Linked DNA regions of Homo sapiens. The protein of the gene in region 2 purifies or fractionates together with the protein of the main gene of each other region. This does not show direct contact. Each region holds a gene or a part of one and is shown on either strand. Other genes may lie near its edges. The genes, in order: GLUD1, E2F6 and POF1B.

The links.
Region 1: the proteins of E2F6 (region 2) and GLUD1 purify together in Homo sapiens (affinity purification with mass spectrometry; one large-scale study listed by BioGRID and IntAct). This does not show direct contact.
Region 3: the proteins of E2F6 (region 2) and POF1B purify together in Homo sapiens (affinity purification with mass spectrometry; 2 studies listed by BioGRID and IntAct, with this or other methods). This does not show direct contact.

Annotation. Positions count from the first base shown.
Region 1 is NC_000010.11:87,084,771-87,088,426, forward strand, and holds part of GLUD1 (glutamate dehydrogenase 1, mitochondrial isoform a precursor), read right to left. Parts: intron 1-3,656. UniProt on the Homo sapiens protein: Mitochondrial glutamate dehydrogenase that catalyzes the conversion of L-glutamate into alpha-ketoglutarate. Plays a key role in glutamine anaplerosis by producing alpha-ketoglutarate, an important intermediate in the tricarboxylic acid cycle.
Region 2 is NC_000002.12:11,459,615-11,463,270, forward strand, and holds part of E2F6 (transcription factor E2F6), read right to left. Parts: intron 1-3,656. UniProt on the Homo sapiens protein: Inhibitor of E2F-dependent transcription. Binds DNA cooperatively with DP proteins through the E2 recognition site, 5'-TTTC[CG]CGC-3'. Has a preference for the 5'-TTTCCCGC-3' E2F recognition site.
Region 3 is NC_000023.11:85,310,115-85,313,770, forward strand, and holds part of POF1B (protein POF1B), read right to left. Parts: intron 1-3,656. UniProt on the Homo sapiens protein: Plays a key role in the organization of epithelial monolayers by regulating the actin cytoskeleton. May be involved in ovary development.

The DNA.
Region 1 (3,656 bases), on a different chromosome or scaffold from region 2:
ACCAGAAAAGCAAAAATGCCTCAGAACAACTCTTAATATTTATAAGTTAACACTCTTGCCACTTACTCATCAGATTATATTTTTTCACTTAATATTAATGTACCTTCTAACCCACAATAATGTAGCGTAACTTAATTTAAAATGAAGAGAGGAAGGTTAGAAGCAGGGAGGAACTCTCAATGACCACCCACAAGTAATGACCACCTGAAATACTACGTCTCAGATAAAAATTCAGACATTCAGCATGGGAAGGAGCACTGCATATAGGAGCTAAGAAAAAGTACACACTTTAGGCTGGGCGTGGTGGCTCACGCGTGTAATCCCAGCACTTTGGGAGGCTGAGGTGGGCAGATCATTTGAGGTAGGAGTTCGAGACCAGCCTGGCCAACATGATGAAACCCTGTCTCTACTAAACACACAACAAAATTAGCTGGGCGTGGTGGTGCACACCTGTAATCCCAGCTACTGGGGAGGCTGAGGCAGGAGAATCGCTTAAACCTGGGAGACCGAGGTTGCAATGAGTGGAGATTGCACCATTGCACTTCAGCCTGGGCGACAGAGAGTGAGACTCCGTCTCCAAAAAAAAAAAAAAAAACCAGAAAAATTATACTTTAATTGCTTTAGCAGCATCAATGTACTGTTTTGTATAAAGTAGGCAAATACCATCTTAGATTTTTAATCCAGTCTAAATCTTTTATTTTAACCTGAATAAATTTTGAAGAGGTAACTAAGCTTTCTGGGAAGCAAATGTTTAGCTGATATTAGAAAAATATAACCTATTGACACATCAAAGAAAAAACGGAAGAATACTTTTTTCATTAAAAATTTAAAATTATAACACATATGTATGTATTTCTATCAAAATTTAAATACAAAAAGAAAGCTGAAGACTCCCTTGACTTCCACTTATGACCCCAGTCTTCTCCTTAGGGGTGACTATTCTTAGCAATGTAAGTGTATATCCTTCCAAATCATGTTCCCTGCAATTATATATGTACATATCCATAAAACATACAGCTTTGTTTTGTGTTATTTAACTTACAGCCTGACAGATGGAAGATTATACATTAAAAGGGGGATTTTGTTAATTTTTCTTGGTAGATTCTTTTATTCTGATCTTGATTAACAGTAACTTAGCTGCACTTTCACACCAAACAGGTCTTGGAATCGGAAATGATGCTAGTTAAAATGGTGAATATAAAGTTGGATTTAGTAAAAGGTAACAATAACTTGTTATTAAAAAGTTTCAAAGGGATAAAGGCTTGAAACCTCAGCTATCCAGTTTCATATAAATTATTTACAAGTCTACGTGATAATTTGAGATGGGTCTTAAGAGAGGCAGAGGAATCCTAGGGAGGGGGAAGTGAGGCATGGACAGGCAGAGGGACTGCACTATTCAAGGGCATGATGGAGAGAAGTACGTGCCTGGATTTCCAATTTCCCTAAGGATAATTTTACACCAGATCTTCTTTATTTTAAAAATCCAATCCTTTTCCTTAATAACCCCATCTGTCCCTGATACCACCATTTTTTTCTACCAGTCTCTCAGGCTAGAAATTTTGTGGTTATCTTTGCCTCTTCTCTCCTTCATCCTGTAAATCCTACCTGTTGGGAATACATTACTGTCCTTTCTTCAAAATGTTTTATCTGTCTTTTCTTTTTCATTCTCTGCTATTAACTATAACTTCATTCTCAGTTCCACTGCTGCCTAGCTTTCTGTGCCCTGCTAGATTCATCATTATTCATCCAACAAACATAAAAGGAAAAAATTGGCCTGGCGCGGTGGCTCACGCCTGTAATCCCAGCACTTTGGGAGGCCGAGGCGGGCGGATCATGAGGTCAGGAGATCAAGACCATCCTGGCTAACATGGTGAAACCCCGTCTCCACTAAAAATACAAAAAAAAAAAAAAATTAGCCAGCGTGGCGGTGGGCGCCTGTAGTCCCAGCTACTCAGGAGGCTGAGGCAGGAGAATGGCATCAACCCAGGAGGCGGAGCTTGCAGTAAGCCAAGATCGCGCCACTGCACTCCAGCCTGGGAGACAGCGAGACTCCGTCTCAAAGAAAAAAAAAAAAAAAAAAAGGAAAAAATTGTTTTTTCTCACACATTTCTGACACCAAATGTGTGGGTTTTCCACACTAAGCAGTTCTCCAGTTCTCTGCAGATACAAACTGGGTGTCCTGCAATTCAGTTATGACACTGACTACCAGGGTTAGCACAGACCCCACAGCTCAAGGGCTCAGTCGCACAAGACTGTTCCCTACTTCAGATGCCAGTTCCAAGTCTTGGGTGCCCAGGGCACCCACACTTCTGTCCAACTTGGCTACCAACCAGGGGGTTCCCATGGCCCCCTCCTCAGGTTCAATAATGTTATAAAGGCTCACAGGACTCAGGGAAACGTTACTTATGTAAAGGATACAAATCAACAGCAACATGAAGAGGTACACAGGGCCATGTCTGGAATGTCCCCACTGCAGGAGCTTCTGTTCCCCTGGAATTTGGAGGGTACCACCCTACCCATACATGGATGCATTCACCAACCTGGAAGCTCTCTGAACTCTCCCCATACTCCAGCCATCAGTTAGGGTTTGTATAGAGGTTCCATTATGAGGGCATGACTGATTGCTGATTAAACTCAATCTTCAGCCCCTTTCCAATCTCCAGAGGTCAAAGGGTGGGACTGAAAGTTCCAAATTTCTAATTATGGCTTGGTCTTTTTGGTGACTAGTCCCCACCTTGAAGCTACCCAGAAGCCCATTAAGAGTGTCCTAGTTAGAACAAAAGATGCTCCTATCACTCAGGAATTTGCGACATTCAGGAGCTCTGTGTTGGGAACCAGGCAAAGAGACCAAATATATTTACTGTCACAAGCCCTTATTTCTCATTATTTACAAATGTAGTTTGTCCTCATGACCCCCTTACACACAGTTCCACTTCCTGCCTTGGGTGAAGCCACCCCCTCTTTATCTGAAATGGCCTTATCCAACTCCTATCCAGCCTTCTCTGTTCCCACATCAAGACTGTCTGTCTGCCAGGCACGGTGGCTCACGCCTGTAATCCCAGCACTTTAGGAGGCCGAGGTGGGCTGATCACATGAGGTCGGGAGTTCGAGACCAGCCTGACCAACATGGCAAAACCCTGTCTCTACTAAATATACAAAAATCAGCTAGGTGAGGTGGTGCATGCCTGTAATCCCAGCTACTTGGTAGGCTGAGGCAGGAAAATTGCTTGAACCTGGTAAGCAGAGGTTGTAGTGAGCCAAGATCGCGCCACTGTATGCCAGCCTGGGCAACAAGAGCAAAACTCTGTTTCAAAAAAAAAACAAACAAAAAAACAAATAAACAAACAAGATTGTCCTTGGTTTCCTTGAACTCCTACTGCAACAACACATGATTTACTTTGTTTTGTTTTTTTTTTTGTCATTTATTGACTGGTTCTAGGAAAGGAAAATGTAGAAATGGAATACTGAGCTTATAGCAAAACAAAAAAGACATAGGGTACAAAGGAGATTTGAATCTGCTCTACTTGGGAGAAATCAATGAAAAAAAATATTCCAAGAAATAAAAAAATTCAACTTTGTTTTTTTAAAAGAACCCTCTGCATAAAGTTCAGAGATCTTGCCTGCAGGAACAAAAAACACATAATAGAAAAATTGAT
Region 2 (3,656 bases):
CATGCCTGTAATCCCAGGACTTTGGGAGGCGGGGTGGGGGGAGGAGATCACAAGGTCAGGAGTTCAAGACCAGCCTGGCCAACATAGTGAAATCCCCGTCTCTACTAAAAATACAAAAAATTAGCTGGGGGTGGTGGTGGGCACCTGTAATAAAAGCTACTTGGGAGGCTGAGGCAGGAGAATCGCTTGAACCCGGGAGGCAGGGGTTGCAGTGAGCTGAGATCGTGCCATTGCACTCCAGCCCAGATGACGGTGCGAGACTCCGTCTCAAAAAAAAAAAAGATGATAAATAGGCAGATTGTTTGCATGCTAGCTGCAAAATGAATGGAGAAGTCAGAGGCTTACAAAATGAAAATCACTCAGGCTGATCTTGTGCCCTGACAGAGTATACAGCTCTCTAGGAACCAGCATCTTCTGGGGCAAGTCAGCATATTTTTTCAAATTCCAAGCTATTTCACCACTGCTCCAAGTCCCCTATTTAAAGACCTATACTTTATTGTGTAGCTTTGAAGAGCTGCTTCAAAGGTGGAAAAAAAAATAAAAGATGAAGTTTAGGGACTAAAATGCTAAGCACTGCCTCCAAGCTGGTTAAACCTTTCTCTATACAGATGTTTCTCTACACCAATTCTGTTTTGGGGAGCAATATTCCTTCAAGAGGTCTTTGGAAAGGTTATTGCATTCTCACCCATTCAAATTTTCCTTATTTTTCAATTATGCAGACCAAGTTCTACCTCCAATCAATGCTATTTTCTCCCTTCTCAGAAGTCCAGATCCTCTGGGACCCTCTTTCCCGTTTGTCCTTGGACAACAACTTCAGATTCTCTGGCCTTTGGACTCTAGGAGTTACACTAGCAGCCTCCCAGGTTCTCATGCTATGGACTTGGACTGAGCCATGCTACCAGCATCCCAAGGTCTCCAGCTTGCAGCCAGCCTATTGTGGGGCTTCTCAGCCTCCAAAATCATGAGCCAATTTCCCTAATAAATTCCCTCTCATATATCTACATGCAATCATGCATCTTCTCAGAATCGTCATTAGGCGATTTTGTTGCGTGAACATCATAGAGTGCTTAAACAAACCTAGATGGTACAGCCCACTACACACCTAGGCTATACAGTATAGCCTATTGCTGCTAGGCCACAAACCTGTAGAGCATGTGACTGACTGAATACTGTAGATAACGGTAACTAACAGAATGGTATTTGTGCATCTAAACATAGAAAAGGTAATGTTTGGTGCTATGACCATTATGATGGCTACAATGTCACCAGGTGATAGAAATTTTTCAGCTCCACTATAATCTTACAGGACCAGAAACCTAATACAGATTTGGTACCAGAAGTGGAGTGAGTCATACTTTGCACCTCACCTTTAGGGGTCTGCTGGGACTTGGGTCTAGTAATAGGTCTAGAAGCAAAGAGGGGTGGCGGGGTGGGTCCTGATGAGAATCAGCACTGTCTTGTCCGGGAACTGTTTCAGAGGAGGCCATTACTATCTCCACAGGCAATGCAGAATTAATCCCCTTAGACAGGGGTGGAAAGGATGATACCACTGTAGGTGGAAATGCTACTGCCCCTCTGGCAAACAAGACTCATCAGAATTTAGGGGCTCAATGTGTCCAGCCTCATCTTCCCACATGATCCCATCCAAACTTGCAGGACCCCACTCTTTCCCAACCAATACCCTCACTTTAACAGTAGATGCTCTGTGAGGCTAAGAGAGTTCAACTTTCTATTTTATTTATTTATTTATTTTTGTGATGGAGTTTCACTCTTGTTGCCCAAGCTGGAGTGCAGTGGCACAATCTCGGCTCACTGCAACCTCCACCTCCTGGGTTCAAGTGATTCTTCTGCCTCAGCCTCCCGAGTAGCTGGGATTACAGGCGCACGTCACCAAGCCTGGCTAATTTTTTGTATTTTTAGTAGAAACGGGGTTTCACCACATTAGCCAGGCTGGTCTCGAAATCCGGACCTCAGGTGATCCACCCGCCTCAGCCTCCCGAAGTGCTGGGATTACAGGCATGAGCCACCATGACTGGCCAAGAGTTCAACTTCCATTGTAATTTGGCCAGTTACATGATGAAGGCTTGTGTTTGATTTTCAGCAATTTCAGCCCCATGGCTACAGGATAGAAGATTCTAACCCAGGGCACACTTAGAAACTTTTAGGTCATTTATGTGGAACTCCAGCCATGAAACTGAATCCCTGAGCTCATCCTTTTCTTTCATCACTTTGTCCAAAGACAATAGGAGCAACCAACCAATGTCATTATAATCCTTGTTTTCCCAAAAATATTTGAAAATATCACATATAGCGTCACTAAATTCTTTGCCTCTTATAAGCAGTGAATTAGAATAAAAAGGCATTTATTTTGCATATCTATAAACAGTTTGTGTCATGGACTTCCAGTGCTCTCTCTACTATTAGAAGTAGAGCTCTTGGCATTTTTAGATTCTAATCAGATTAAAGAATCAATTCCAAAAACCCCAATTAAGGAAACTCATCTTTAATATTCTGTTTCCCAGAACCATTCCTGGTACCAAAATCTGTGTTAGTATTGGTCTGTCTCTCTGGAGAGCCCTGACCAATAGAGTAATAAATTCAATTCTGGATATAGAGTAGTCCACCCTTATCCCTGGGAGCTACATTCCAAGACCCCCAGTGGATGCCTAAAACCGCAAACAGTACCAATCTCTATATATACTATTTTTTCGTATACATACATACATGTGATAACATTTAATTTATAGATCGGGCATAGTAAGAGATTAACAGCTAATAATAAAATACAACAATTATAGCAATAAACTACAATGAAAGTTATGTGAATGTGGTCTCTCTCTCAAAATATCTTATACTGTAGATCTTAGCGACCTCAGAATAAGATTTTTTTTCTTTCCTTACTAAGTCAAGAACTTAGATCTTTTCACTTAAAGGAAGCACTTCATCAATTCTCTTCAGCATACTGGAAGCACTACTGGAAGCATACTGGAAGCACTACTTTTGTGCTTTGGGGCCATTACTGAGAAAATAAGGGCTACTTAACACAAGCACCGTGACAGTTGGTCTGAGAATCAAGAAACAGCTACTAAGCGACTAAGGGCAGGGCGCAGTGACAGCATGGGAACTCTGGACAAAGGAAGATTCAGGTGCTGGGTGGTACTGGACAGCTCAAGATTTCATGACACTACTGAGAATGGCAAGCAGTTTAAAACTAATGAATTATTTCTGGAATTTTCATTTTAATAGTTTGGGGGACCACAGGTTAACTGAAATAAAGAAAAGTGAAACCTCAGATGAGAGGGGACTAATAGGAGTTTGAAACCTAAGTAGGAAGGTCTAGTAGACAGCTGGAAAACCCTGAAGGAGATTTATAGATTTGGGAATTATGACATGGTAACTGAAAATACCAGAACTGTATGTCTAAGATTTCAAGGGATGTATCTGCTGATACTACATGCAAACTAAGTGGTTTTTCCACAGTGAGCTTAGAGTTTTTATCACGTTCTCAAATATTAAGACCACCAATACAGATGGTACCAATATACAGCTGACCCTCAAACAACACAGGTTTGAATTGTGTGGGTCCACTTAGAGACCAATTTTCTTTACCCGCTGCCACCCCTTAGAGAGCAAAACCAGCTCCTCCTCTTACTCTT
Region 3 (3,656 bases), on a different chromosome or scaffold from region 2:
CTTCTGAGATCAAACAAGATCAGACATGTTCAGGGTCAATTGAAAATCACTCATAATTCCAAGAACAACAAAAATCTCAACCAATAAGAAAAAACACTTAATTGATGACAACATCAAGATAATAGAAATGTTAGAATTATCTGATAAAGTGTATAAAACAACCATCATAAATACTTCAACAAGAAGTTGCAAGGAGACTGTAAAAACACATTGTCTCAATGACAAAATAGAAAGTCTCAGCAAATAAATAGAAGACATAAAGAATACCTAAATGGAAATTTTAGAACTGAAAAGGACAGTAACAAGACAAAGAAACAAAAACCAAACCAAAACAACAAAGCTCTCAAGGAGTGGGCTAAAAAGCAGAATGGAGAGAACAGAGGAAAGAATTAATGAACTTAAAGATAGAATAAAATAAAGTATATAATCTGAATATCAGAAACAAATAGATTAGAAAAAATTAAACAGAGCTTAAGGGTTTGTGGGTGTACACCACATATCTAGCTTTCATGTTCAGAGTCCTGGAAGGAAAGGAGAAAGAGGATGGAGCTGAAAAAATATTCAAAAAAATTATGGCTGAGAAGTTTCCCAAATTAGTAAAACCTGGTAACATACATATTCAAGAAGCTGAGCATATCCCAAACAATATAAACCCAAAGAAATCCATTACCAGACAAATCAGAGTCAAACTTCTTAAAACTAAAGACAAACTAAAAATTTTCAAAGCAGCAAGAAAAACATTAATTATTGGGAATAACAATTCAAATGACAACAGATTTCTCATTACAAATCATGAAGCCCAGAAGGAACTAGGATACTATTTTTTAAGTACTAAAAGAAAATAATTGTCAACTGTAAATTCTATATGCAGTGAAATTATCCTTTAGGAATGGAGGGAAATTCACATTTTCAGATGAGGGAAAATGAAAATAATTTGTTACTAGCAGACCTACCCTTAAAGAATAGCTAAAAGAAGTTGTCTAAAGAGAAGAAAATCATAAAAGAAAGAATTTGGAATATTAAGAAGGAAGATATAGCATTGTAAGCAAAAATATGGTAAATACAATAAGTTTTCCTTCTTTTCTAGAGTTTTCTTTTTTTATTATACTTTAAGTTCTGGGATACATGTGCAGAACGTGCAGGTTTGTTACATAGGTATACACGTGCCATGGTGGTTTCCTGCACCCATCAACCTGTCATCTATCTACATTAGGTATTTCTCCTAATGCTATCCCTCCCCTAGCCCCCCACCCCCTGACAGGCCCCAGTGTGTGATGTTCCCATGTGTTCTCACTGTTCAACTCCCACTTATGAGTGAGAACATGAGGTGTGTGGTTTTCTGTTTCTGTGTCAGTTTGCTGCGAATGATGGTTTCCAGCTTCATCCATGTCCCTGCAAAGGACATGAACTCATCCTTTTTAATGGCTGCATAGTATTCCATGGTGCGTATGTCCCACATTATCTAGTCTATCATTGATGGGCAATTTGGGTTGGTTCCAAGTCTTTGCTATTGTGAATAGTGCTGCAATAAACATATGTGTGCATGTGTATTTATAGTAGAATGATTTATAATCTTTGGGTATATACCCAGTAATGGGATTGCTGAGTCAAATGGTATTTCTAGTTCTAGATCCTTGAGGAAGCGCCACACTGGTTGAACTAATTTACACTCCCACCAATAATCTAAAAGCGTTCCTATTTCTCCACATCCACTCCAGCATCTGTTTTTTCCTGACTTTTTGATGATCGCCATTCTAACTCACGTGAGATGGTATCTCATTGTGGTTTTGATTTGCATTTCTCTAATGACCAGTGATGATGAGCATTTTTTCATGTTTGTTGGCTGCATTAATGTCTTATTTTGAGAAATGTCTGTTCATACCCTTTGGCCACTTTTTGATGGGGTTGTTTGTTTGATTCTTGTAAATTTGTTTAAATTCTTTGTAGATTCTGGGTATTAGCCCTTTGTCAGATGGATAGATTGCAAACATTTTCTCCCATTCTGTAGGGTGCCTGTTCACTCTGATAATAGTTTCTTTTGCTGTGCAGAAGCTCTTTAGTTTAATTAGATCCCATTTGTCAATTTTTGCTTTTGTTGCTATTGCTTTTGGTGTTTTAGTCATGAAGTCTTCCCCATGCCTATGTCCTGAATGGTATTGCCTAGGTTTTCTTCTAGAGTTTTTATGGTTTTAGGTCTTACCTTTAAGTCTTTAATCCATCTTGAGTTAATTTTTGTATAAAGTGTAAGGAAGGGGTCCAGTTTCAGTTTTCAGCATATGGCTAGCCAGTTTTCCCAGCATTATTTATTAAACAGGGAATCTTTTCCCCATTGCTTGTTTTTGTAAGGTTTGTCAAAGATCCAATAGTTGTAAATGTGTGGCATTATTTCTGAGGCCTCTGTTCTGTTCCATTGGTCTATCTCTCTGTTTTGGTACCGGTACCATGCTGTTTTTGTTACTGAAGCCTTGTAGTATAGTTTGAAGTCAGGTAGCATGATGCCTCCAGCTTTGTTCTTTTGGCTTAGGATTGTCTTGGATATATGGGCTCTTTTTTTGGTTCCATATGTAATTTAAAGTATTTTTTCTAATTCTGTGAAGAAAGTCAATGGTAGCTTGATGGGGTTAGCACTGAATCTATAAATTATTTTCAGCTGTATGGCCATTTTCAAGATATCGATTCTTCCTATCCATAACAATGGAATGTTTTTCCATTTGTTTGTGTCCTCTCTTATTTCCTTGAACAGTGGTTTGTAGCTCTCCTTGAAGAAGTCCTTCACATCCCTTATAAGTTATATTCCTAGGTATTTTATTCTCTTTGTAGCAATTGTGAATGTGAGTTCACTCAAGATTTGGCCCTCTGTTTGTCTATTATTGATGTATAGGAATGTTTGTGACTTTTGCACATTGATTTTGTATCTTGAGACTTTGCTGAAGTTGCTTATCAGCTTAAGGAGATTTTGGGTTGAGACGATGGGGTTTTCTAAATATACAATCATGTCGTCTGCAAACAGAGACAATTTGACTTCCTCTCTTGCTATTTGAATCCCCTTTATTTCTTTCACTTGCCTTGTTGCCCTGGCCAGAACTTCCAATACTATGTTGAATAGGAGTAGTGAGAGAGGGCATCCTTGTCTTGTGCCGGTTTTCAAAGACAATGCTTCCAGCTTTTGTCCATTCAGTATGATATTGGCTGTTGGTTTGTCGTAAATAGCTCTTATTATTTTGAGATACATCCCATCAATACCTAGTTTATTGAGAGTTTTTAGCATGAAGCGGTGTTGAATTTTATCAAAGGCCTTTTCTGCCTTTATTGAGATAGTCATGTGGTTTTTGTCATTGATTCTGTTTATGTAATGGATTATGTTTATTGATTTGCATATGTTGAATCAGCCTTGCATTCCAGCGATGAAGCTGACTTGATCATGGTGGATAAGCTTTTTGATATGCTGCTGGATTCAGTTTGCTGTATTTTATTGAGGATTTTTGCATCGACGTTCATCAGGGATATTGGCCTGAAATTTTCCTTTTTTGTTCTGTCTCTGCCAGATTTTGGTATCAGGATGATGCTGGCCTCATAAAACGAGTTAGGGGGGAGTCTCTCTTTTACTATTGTTTGGGATAGTTTCAGAAGGAATGTTACCAGCTCCTCTTTGTACC